4 separate regions of the Homo sapiens genome follow, and all the other regions are linked to region 3. Evidence: fine-mapped expression QTL. A gene starts in region 3. Each other region holds a variant in brackets. All regions are shown on one strand. Distances are from middle to middle. Region 1 overlaps SCUBE2 (signal peptide, CUB domain and EGF like domain containing 2). Region 2 overlaps SCUBE2 (signal peptide, CUB domain and EGF like domain containing 2). Region 3 holds the start of SCUBE2 (signal peptide, CUB domain and EGF like domain containing 2). Region 4 overlaps SCUBE2 (signal peptide, CUB domain and EGF like domain containing 2).

Evidence for each region. PIP is the estimated chance that this variant, and not a neighbour inherited with it, causes the effect. A credible set is the group of variants that fine-mapping cannot tell apart.
Region 1: its variant is the best candidate, but not a certain one, in a credible set for the expression of SCUBE2 in blood mononuclear cells (TOPMed, PIP 0.73).
Region 2: its variant is the best candidate, but not a certain one, in a credible set for the expression of SCUBE2 in gastroesophageal junction (GTEx, PIP 0.89).
Region 4: its variant is the best candidate, but not a certain one, in a credible set for the expression of SCUBE2 in coronary artery (GTEx, PIP 0.80).

What each region holds. Positions count from the first base shown.
Region 1 is chr11:9,037,423-9,040,105 of GRCh38, forward strand. The region is part of intron 16 of SCUBE2 (signal peptide, CUB domain and EGF like domain containing 2); the gene reads right to left. All of the region lies in intron 1 of NRIP3-DT (NRIP3 divergent transcript), which reads left to right. Among named protein-coding and RNA genes, the nearest start is that of NRIP3-DT, 35 kb to the left of the region's middle. RefSeq lists a silencer at 1,824-1,873. The variant G/A (reference allele first, on the strand shown) is at 1,505.
Region 2 is chr11:9,050,052-9,052,734 of GRCh38, forward strand. It overlaps SCUBE2 (signal peptide, CUB domain and EGF like domain containing 2), which reads right to left. Exons shown (of 23, transcript NM_001367977.2): 14 at 555-659. The region is part of intron 1 of NRIP3-DT (NRIP3 divergent transcript); the gene reads left to right. Among named protein-coding and RNA genes, the nearest start is that of MIR5691, 39 kb to the right of the region's middle. The variant C/T (reference allele first, on the strand shown) is at 1,346.
Region 3 is chr11:9,090,458-9,093,140 of GRCh38, forward strand. It overlaps SCUBE2 (signal peptide, CUB domain and EGF like domain containing 2), which reads right to left and starts at 1,142. Exons shown (of 23, transcript NM_001367977.2): 1 at 939-1,142. The coding sequence starts at 1,071.
Region 4 is chr11:9,054,429-9,057,111 of GRCh38, forward strand. It overlaps SCUBE2 (signal peptide, CUB domain and EGF like domain containing 2), which reads right to left. Exons shown (of 23, transcript NM_001367977.2): 10 at 1,365-1,481. The region is part of intron 1 of NRIP3-DT (NRIP3 divergent transcript); the gene reads left to right. Among named protein-coding and RNA genes, the nearest start is that of MIR5691, 35 kb to the right of the region's middle. The variant A/G (reference allele first, on the strand shown) is at 1,677.

The DNA of each region.
Region 1 (2,683 bases), 53 kb before region 3:
GCCTCCGCCTCTTTTCAGCACTGTGGCCTTTGAGTATTTCAGGCTATAGACAAACACTATGGTCTCTCTGTGGCTAAGATGATGAACCTAATAAAAGGGGTCACCCTCTAGTATTTGACTGCTTTCTTAAGAATCACGCCTTGACTTCTGAAGAAGAGCCATAAGCAGCCCACGTGGATTCCCAGGGTGCCCCAGGGCTGCTGCTTTGTCCCAGTCCAGAGGTGCTGATGCCCCAGGCAGAGTTGGCCTCAGGATCCTGGTTTGAGCTCTCTTTAAATGACTGCCCCCATGATAACAGGGGACAGTCCTTCTTGGGCTGAGAGATTGATTTTTCATTGTCCAGGTTTTTGACCTGTGCTCAGGTTTGCTCTTTAAAAACATTCCTGTAGTTGAGGCAGAGAAATGAGCCCAGCTTGATGCCTTCTTCCTTATTGGGTTCCCAAATGCACACTATGTTCTTTTCATGCCTAGTTAACTGGAGCTGAAATTTCACTTCCTTTAGAGTGCCTTTTTTGCCCTCAATTTAAATATTTCTCCAAAGATTTGCCCTTTGCCCTCTTTTCTCTTAATGTTATCTACTATCCTTGGGATTTCATCTGTTGTCCCTGTGAAGATTCATTTACTCATTCATTCAATAAGTACTTATTGAGCACTCATTATGTGCTGAGTACCGTTCTAGGAGCTGGAGACACAGCAGAGAAGAGACATGACCCTGTTCTAATGGGGTTCTCAGGGCAGTAAATAAATGAGCAATAAATCTCAATGAGCAAGCAAATAAGTATGTAATAGAATGCAAGTAGTAGTATGATGAAGAAAAGGAAAACAGGGGAAGATTACAAAGAGGGGGTAGGGATGGAGTTTGTATATATGCTATTTTAGAACTGTGGCCAAGAAAGGCCTTTCTGAACAGAGACCAGAATAAAATGTGGGAAACAGGCTGGGTGCTGTGGCTCACACCTGTAATCCCAGCACACTGGGAGGCTGAGGCAGGAGGACTGCTTGAGCCCAGAGTTCAAGACCAGCTTGGGAAATATAGTGAGACCTCGTCTTTCCAAAATCACCTTAAAAAGTTAGCTGAGCGTGGTAGTGCATGCCAGTGGGAGAATAGCTTGAGCCCAGGAGGCGGAGGTTGCAATGAGCCAAAATCACACCACTACACTCCAGCCTGGGTGACAGAGCAAGACCCTGTCTAAAAAACAAACAAACAAACAAACACAAAACAACAACAAAAAAAAACAGGAAATAGCCTTGCAATGAGATTGCCTAATAGCAAGAAAGGCAGTGTAGTAGGAACACAGCATAAGGGGGTAGGGCAATAAGAGAGGAACTTTAAAAAGCAAGCAAGGGCCAGATCACATGGGTGCTTGAAGGCCATGGTAAGGAAATTAGACCTTACCCAAAGTATGTTGGAGGTTTGAAATGGGGCAGTGACACAATCTGATTTATGTTTTTCTTTTCTTTTCTTTTCTTTTCTTTTCTTTTTTCGTTTAGGAGACAGGGTTGC[G/A]CTCTGTTACCCAGGCTGGAGTGATCATGGCTCACTGCAGACTCAACCTCCTGGGCTCAAGTGATCCTCCCACCTTAGACTCCTGAGTAGCTGGAACTACAGGCTTGCACCACCATGCCCAGCTAATGTTTTAACTTTTTGTAGAAATAGGGTCTCCTGGGCTCAAGTGGTCCTCTGTCTCGGCATCCGAAAGTGAGCCACTGTACCCAGCCTGATTTATGTTTTTAAGAGATGTCCTGGCTGCTGTGTGGAGAACAGATGGAGGCCAGGCAAGGCTGAGGAGAACAATTCAGAGCCTGGTACAACAGACTGAGCTAGAGATGACGGTGGCTTGAAACAGAGCAGTAATAATAACGGAGGAGGAGAAAACTGGTCAGATAAAGGAAATTACCTGAAGGCAGAGCTGACAGGATTTGCACACGGACTGGATGAGGAACGCAACAGAAAGGGAGAGGTCAAGATGACTCAGGCTTTCCACTTGAGCAACTGGGTGAGGCGAGGTGCCCCTTACTGAGATGCTGGTTTGATTTGATTTGAAGCTTGAGAGGATAAGAAGCTTTGTTTGGAAACACTGAGTTTGAGATGCCAGTTGGCCATCCAAGTGCGGACACTAGGAAGGCACGGGTTCTACTGTTGGTCTCTGAGGCGGAATACTACACCTCGGGGGTTGACAAGATGATCCACCGGGTGGGAGCACGTTTCTACACCCATGCCTACGAATTTTCACCTAAAATAAGAAACAAACGAAGCTCCTCTGGTTTAGAATATGGTGTAAGAGCAGCCTCCCAGCCAGTCTCCATCTCTGTGAGGCACAAGACACATGTGAGGAGCCAGGGTCGCCAAGAAAAGAGAAGCACTGGCACCCACAACTCGGGCGCAGGGCACTGACTGACTCTCGCCTCTCAATACATAGAGAATAGTTACAGCTTAGCTATGCCTGGGTAATGAGATGTCCTGACCTATATGATCGTGTTTTTAACTAAACTAACCATCACAAAATAGAAAGCAGCTTTGATGGATTCCCGGAAAGAACACCCGACTGAAGGGCGTAAACGTGACGCGAGCCCATGCGCACCACAGGAGTGTCCGTGGGCGCATCTTCTGCTCCTAGCACAGCAGCCACGCGCGTCCGCACCACAGGAGAGGGCCCGTGGGTGCATCTTCTGCTCCTAGCACAGC
Region 2 (2,683 bases), 40 kb before region 3:
AATGTGTGCTGGGAAAGAAAAAGGAATGTTAGATTCTGCTCTTCTCAATAAGGCCAGTTCTACTTGGATGGTATTTGCTTTGCTGAAGCCAATGGGGTCACCGCTTCCAAAAACTAGACCCAGCAGGAAGGCTGGATATTAGATCTTTGTTCATCAAAGTTATCCTTTCTGAGCCAAACCTTTTTTCATTTCTTTGGCTTATATTTCAAGCAAAATCTGAGATCTAGAAAATTTAACCCAATATGATCACAAATTGCTAATTCATCTGAAGCCCTTATTGACTTCTGTGAACTCGTGGGTTTCCCCAGAGCCTCACCAACTATACCATGCAAAGGAAGCCCCGAAGTGTGACCCCAGAACTATACAAGCATGCTAGGTTATGCTCTTCTTCCTCTTGGGATGAGTCCCTGGAAGTTGGGGATGGTTCAGTTCCATCTGCAGTGTGCTTGGATCGGCTGGACAGCCCCTGGCCCCCATGGACCTCCAGCTCGGCTGGCTGCAGGCCCCTTCCCACATGCAGGCAAGCTCCCTACACCAACCACCTGATTCCATACCTGGTAGTGCTGGTCGCAGACCCTCGGGAAACAGCTCAGCATTTTTCAAACTACACTTGCCTTCATTTAGCTTAAAGGTTACACTTGTCCTGATGGTGGTGACATCTTCAGAAAGAAACAAGTGAGAGATGTTACCTTCAGAGGCAAAGGAATGGAGACACCAGATGGGAAGCAGCAAGCTGTCCATTGGTGGCTTCCACCACACACAGCACACCCTGAGACCCTCTCCTACCCTGAGGCTAAGAGTGGCTTGGATCATGGAGTGCCCATTGCCCTGGACTGGGGCCACCAGGAGCCTCCTAAAATTGCAGTTACCCCCTCATGTGAGAGGCAAATCCAGTGTTCAAATAAAACAGAGGCCAGCCTGGCGAACATGGTGAAACCCCATCTCTACTAAAAATACAAAAATTAGCCGGGCATGGTGGCACATGCCTGTAATCCCAGCTACTCGGGAGGCTGAGGCAGGAGAATTGCTTGAACCCAGGAGGCAGAGGTTGCAGTGAGCTGAGATTGCACCACTGCACTCTAGCCTAGGCAACAGAGTGAATGAGACTCCATTTCAAAAAAAACAAAAAATTATCTATCTATCTATCTATCTATCTATCTATCTATCTATCTATCTACCTACCTACCTATCTATCTATCTATCTATCTACCTATCTATCTATCTAAAACTGAGGGTCAAAAATAGCCTCCACGGTGAAATAGAACATGAAGTCATTTTTGTGCCTTCCTGAGAAAAAAAGGCCAGAATCCCCCAGTTCAAATCTGGATAAGCCCGTTTGGCGAAA[C/T]GGTGAAGGGCAGATTCTCCTAAACAAGCCCGTCGTGGGAGGACAGGGCTGAGGGAGCTGTTGTTCCAGACACAGATGGCACTCACTAAACATGGCTAGGCTCTGAGGTCTGAGAGGGAGTGAGGGTCCCACTGTGAGAGCCTGATGTGCAAAATTCTGTTCTCCTCCCAGGGTCAGTCAGTCTTAACCATCCGGTAGGATCTGGAGTCAATGCCCTACAGCTCTTTTAAGTTGTGGTGAGAACTTGAGCAAGTTACTTAATCTCCCTAAGCTTCAGTGTCCTCATCTGTAAAACAGGCATAATTATAGTACCTATATTACCAGGCTGTTGTAAGGATAAAATGAGATAATGCATTTAAAAAAAGGAAAATGTTTAGCTCCTTGCCTGGTACGTAGTAATAACTGCATAGCCATTAGCTATTTGCTTGCCCCACCTTGGGGTGGCCCAAATCACCAAGGAACTGTCACTGAGGGATTTGGCGAAACAGACCATGATGTATGCCCTGGCTGAGTCCAAACGTGCATTGAAAGGGGCAGTGAAGGATAGTGCTTGAGACTCTGGACCCAGACTGCCTGGGTTCAAATCCCAGCTCCCCTATTTCTTATCTAAACCACTTTGAGTAAGTTATTTCACCTCTCTGAGCCTCAGTTTCTTCATCTGGTTAATGAGAATAATAGTAAAATTTCCTCAGAGGGTTGTAGTATGGCTTAAGTCAGTTAATTCGTGTACTATGGTAGCTGGCATATTTGAATTGCTCAGTCAACACATACAAGCTGTACTGTCTTGCTTTGAGTCTCTAGCTTTGCTCATATATGTAATATGAACATCAGGATGTAATATGAACCTCATTCAGGTGTTCCAATGACATAATGACAAAGGCGTCTATATCCGGGAGGACACAGCCTCCTAAAAACCTTGGATTTCATTCTTCATCTTTTGACAAACAGGAAAGGGTTTGGGCCCCTTTCTCGGCACAGAATCCCTGCTGCCCCTGCTTTGCCTATTTCTATCCACACCATGTGCTCCAGGCACATTCCCTGGGCCTTTGAGGTGCTCTGGAGTACAGCCTGCTGGTCCTGGGGTTCTGTGGGCCTCTGCCCAGGGTGATGACCCACCAGGGCTGACCACAGCCTCCTGACACACAGTGGCCACACAGTAAGTATCTGTTACATGGGAGAGTCACATTCCGGGCACCAGGACTGCAGGCAACAACACCCTGGAACATGCTCACAGCATCAAGGAAATTAACAGAAAAAAAACAAAGCCAATGTCCAAGAACAGCACCCCGTGAATGAAGCCCCTTGAACACAGTGAGCCCCCAGAGAGAACACGCAGAT
Region 3 (2,683 bases):
ATTATGAGATTTTTTTTTTATTTATTTATTTATTTTTTTTTTTTGCTCATCAGCTGTCGTTTGTGTTGGTATATTTTATGTGTGGCCCAATTCTTCTTCTTCCACTGTGGCCCAGGTAAGCCAAAAGATTGCACCCCGCTGGTTTAGAGTATTTATGGGAAGTCTGCCCCGGGATCGGAGCAGATGTCATCCAGGGCTCTCAGATGCTGCGAAGCGGGGATGGTGTCCCCATGGCCGGCCCCCTGCACTCCCACCCCTGCCCATCCTCTCAACCTGGAAACCCGCCTTGGCAGAAGTATTTCCTGGGTTGACACTACTCCAGGATATTAATTAAAAACAAAAGCATTTTGAAAGTATTGCAAGTCCAGTAAGCACAGCACGTCCAGAGTCCTCTCTGGAAACCAAAGTTCTCTGCTGAAAACCTAGGCTTGTTGCTGCTTCAGGGTAATTCCCAGATCGGAACAGGCGCTGTTCCGCTGACAGAAAAGTCTCTGGAGCCCACCCCGAAGCCATCAGCAGAACTTGCCGGCCCCCAAAGAAAGAAACGGCAAAGCTGCCACCGCCTCGCGGATGTGCCCGGCCCGGCCCTCAGTTTCCCCGCCTACGCTGAGGCGCGGGACCCCAAGGCCAGGGTCCGCACCCTCCTGCCTGCTCGCCGGCGACGGTCTGACTAGCAGGCGCTCTGGAGGCATCCGGACCGGGGCGGGAACCGTCAGCAGCTCCGGGTCCGAGGCCGGGCCGAAGGACTCAGGGCCCCAGCGGTCGTGGCGCCTTGGCCCGGCCGGCGGGTGAGGTCCCGGGGGGAGCAGAGGCCCCCGCGGAGCTGCAGCCGCCAGCCCCGAGCCCCGCGCGCCCGGCTCTGGACTCCGCCGGGGACCTAAACACTCTTCCTGGCCCTGCCTGCTGTGCCAGGTGCGCCCCCGCGGCCGGACACTCACCCTCCTGCGGCCCCGCGGCACGGCCCCGACCCGGCGGGACGGCCCCCGCCAGCAGCAGCAGTGGCGGCAGCAGCAGCAGCAGCAGCAGCACCGCCCAGGCCGCCCCGGGACGGTTGCGGCCCGCGACCCCCATGGATGGCTCAGCGGTTGCGGGCAGAGGCGGCGGAGTGCGGGCGGTGGCGGCGGCGGCGCGGGGAGGTGTGCGCGGACGCCCTGCCCGCTGCCGCTGCCACCCCCGGCCCGGCCCCGCCCGCCCCCCGAGCCCCGGCCTCATTTTCACACGGTCCCTCCCGGGCCGGGGCGGGAAGCGCAGGCGGGAGCAGTGCCGCCCCGCCCGGCCTCCTCCCGTCCCCTCCCCGGCCTCGGGTGGAGGGGGCGCGGCCGCGGTGGCCCGAGCGCGGCTGTCAGCCTGGCGGGGCGGCAGCACCGTGCCTCGCGCCCCGCGCAGCCCTGGCACCCAGCCCGCTGCCCCCCGCATCCCCGCTCCGCTCCAACGCTCGGAGCCCTCGGTGCCGCGCCTGTTCCAGTGTGTTACAACTCGACCCAGGCCCTCATGTGAGGACAAACAGCCCTTCTAGATTGAAATATTCGGGGTCAGGGCGCCCAGAAAGTGTTCCGTATAGTCCCCAAACCCCAAAGCCATCTTGGGGCTTTCCACGTGGGAGGTGGGAGGTGGGAGTGGAAGGAATTGGGGGTGACTTCCAATTCGGGAAAACAGCTGTTTGAATGGAGAAGGTGACCCTGGCTTCTCTGCCCACCCCAGCACACCCTCTGCACCCTTCTCCACACTGCCCACCCCAGGCCCTCTGGGATCCTCCATCCCACAGCCCTGAGGGCACTGGTCCACTTGTCCCACTGTGGGGCACACTGGGCCTAGAATCCCTGCAAGCTACTTATGTATATCTCAGGGCAGCCTAAGGGGAAGGGGGCTAGAGGTCAAAGGTGAGCCACCAGAGACAACAGACAGCAGCCCCGACTTTGCCGGAGTACAGGTGGCATTTACGATCACCTGAACTCATAAACATCAGGTCTGGCTAGCTTCAAACACAGGCAGGGCCTAGCACCTAGCCTTCCATGAAAGACAGTCCTTGCAAGGGAACAGGTACACAGGGTCTTCCCATATCACACTTGACACGGATGGCTGGAGCCCAATACACCCACCATCACTCCAGGAACAAATATAGTAACAATTTCCGGACGCAACCAAACATCACACTTAGGGATAGTAATGTTCTTCACTGAGCTTCTCCGTATTTATTCAATTTTCTCCTGCGATTATATACATACACATATGTATATATGCAGGCACACGCACGCGCGCACACACACACACACCATTCCTTTGGAGATCAGAAAAAAAATAGATGTCACCAAAAAATCCCCACCTAGCTCATGCACAAAAACTCTTATGTCTTCTTGGGGCCTATCCACAGCCCAGAGCTCCCAGCCTCTGCACCCTCAGTACCCACTGTCTGCCACCCCAGCCCCCGAACATGCCCACGGGGGCCTGCCTCTTTGGGCTGTGGCTAGTGCAGCTGCTTGATGGAGCTATCTGAGAAAATAACTTTTCTGTAGTTGTTTTTCTTTTGACCCTTTCAGTGAAGGCAGGCAGGTTGCGTCCCTCTTTCTGTCTGCGCCTCCCTCCCACTCCCTTTTGTTTGGTGCTGAGAGAGACACTCAGCTATTTCTGGTCATAAGGGTGGTTTTTACACATTTGTAAATCTTCAGTTAGTGAAACGTTCTCT
Region 4 (2,683 bases), 36 kb before region 3:
CTAGCAAGGGAGGCAGACAGAACTGGGACTCCCTGCTTAACCATTTACACAGTTGAGGCACAGAGAAAGGGAAGTGACTACACTAATTCCCATCAACCTGAGACTGAGTCCAGATCAAAAGGTAGCTCCACCTAAACCCAGACATACATCCATACTCAGGGTACATTTCCTCGAGGTTTCCTGATGGACTGGGAAGAGTAGTATGTCTTTGGCCATGCCAAGGATGTGTTGAAAGGGAGAAGGGAGATAACTGTCAGTAGCAAAGCACTAGTGTATATATATATATATATATATATATTTTTTTTTTTTTTTTTTTTTTTTTTTCAGGTGGAGTTTCGCTCTTATTGCCCAGGCTGGAGTGCAATGGCACAACCTCGGCTCACTGCAACCTCCACCTCCCGGGTTCAAGCAATTTTCCTGCCTCAGCTCCCAAGTAGCTGGGATTACAGGCATGCGCCACCACGCCCGGCTAATCTTGTATTTTTAGTAGAGACAGGGTTTCTCCATGTTGGTTAGGCTGGTCTCGAACTCCCGACCTCAGGTGATCCGCCCGCCTTGGCCTCCCAAAGTTCTGGGATTAGAGCCGTAAGCCACCACGCCCAGCATATCCAATCTTCTAAAGCACAAGACTCAGGACTGGTCAGGAAGTATTTAAGCCAGTGGTTCCCAAATCCTATAGATCCTCAGGAAGATGACCTTGGAAGTCCTAGACATTCTGAATTGGAATCTGAACCTGTATTCTCAAAGATTGCTGGGTGAATCTGATGGCTGGGGGAGTGGAGTGGGAGTTAGTTGGTAACAAATCCAGTTTATGGCATAGCCTGCTTGACCATGAGGTTATGAGACATGAGAACATTTTGCAAAATGGGCACAGAGTGGAGAGAGAAACTTCATAGTTCTGCTTCCAGCTCAAAGACCTAGTTGTGGGACTCAAACCAAGGCTTTGCAGCCAGTTCCTATGCATAGCAGGGCTGTGGAATTGGTGGGTGCCCCCCAAGCCTCTCTGAGGACTGTGACTTTACTATCTGCTGAGATGTTCCAATAGATAGGTTATCAGCTCCTGAGATACCCTTCCACTCTCTGAATACAGCCGCAAGTCAATCAAGTCGATAGAGAATTCACAGCTGGAAGAGCTCAGTTCTTCTCTCTGCTCCATTTCACACTCGGTGTGTTAAAGGGATACATGTGGGGAGATTTCCTTTAGCAGATCCTGCTCTCAAGTTGATGGACTCACCGCTATTGCTCAGGGACTGCAATGTACCTTTCATACCCCAATGTAGGAAAGCAAACCTCAGGGGTAGGCCCTGCTCCCCTCCAGGCCCAGCCTCATTCCCCTCCCAACTTGACAGGGGCAGTCTGCTCACCTCCACAGTGGGTGAAGCCATACAGGGTGTACCCTCGGTTGCAAGCACAAGCAAATGTGCCAGGGTGGTTGATGCAGCTGTGGTCACAGGTCCTATCCAAAGAGCACTCATCCACATCTGTAATGGTCAAAGGGAGAGGGGAGCTGAAACCCACTCTGAGGGATGAGTGAAGAATAGGTTTATGATAAATACCAGTTGCTGACCAACACCAAAAACAATACACACAGAGTAAAAAACATTATCTATCCATTTTCCTCACTCACTTGTGTTAAAGAAAGTGTGGAGCAGCCCACAAGAAGTATACTGACTGCC[A/G]CGGCCCTCATTTCCACATTCTGTTGCAAACTGCACTTCCCTCAAAACTCAGTTGGTCTCTTTCACCCATGCGTACTTGCAGGGCTAATTTAAAATGTTTAAATGAAGCCAAATGAGATAACATACCTAAAAAGGGTTTTGTAAGCTACAGGTGCTAGCTATGCATTTTTATTGTCATATAACTATTAGTAAAACAGCAATATTAATTTATTAACTACGGCAAATTGAAAGGAGAAAACACTTGGTTTGGAGGTAAATCTAGTTCCCATCCCTTTCTTATTTTCTCAGAATTAGTCTTCTGGCCCCAAGAGGCCAGTTAATCCTAGGTTTTAATGCCCTCTGCACTGAAAGAATGCATCAATACTAATATCCTCACTAATTTTCTCTTTGCAGGCCCTGAAATGTGGTAGTTCAGCTCCACATTGGATGCTTTTGGCCGATGCCTTGGTTTTGCTCCTCCCCTATGTGCCAGTCCTATGAGTCTGCTAGCCTCCTGGTTCAGTGTGGAAGCCTCCTTGGCTGCAGCGGGGGTCATGCACAGCAGCCTCAGGAGGCTGCATTTGTCCATCTCAGCATCTCTTTCCCTGGGTCTGGCCCTCAACCTCTTTCTTGTAGGCTGGAATTTGAGTGCTTCACTCCCTGAACTCTGGAGGATTTTAACATAGTTACGACTTGTGTCTCCAAATGGATAAACCAGGACCAGTGCCGCACTCAGTCGAAGCCAACTAGACCACTGCTAGACCACTTTTTTCAACACCGAGTGTGCCATGAGAAACTATGTTAATAAAAGGCAAAAATGTGGAAGGAACAGGAAGAATGAAAAAGCAAAATAAAAAAGGGCAAATTCTTGCAAAACCTCTTCATCCCTAGCTTTTCCCAGAAATCCTGGCATTTCTTCAGTAAATTTGTTCTGTGCAAGTATTTGTTCTACCAAGACCGATCAGTGAAAAATGAGAAAAACCTAGTTTCTTCCCTAGGAATTGATGCCATTTTATGAAATCTGTTAT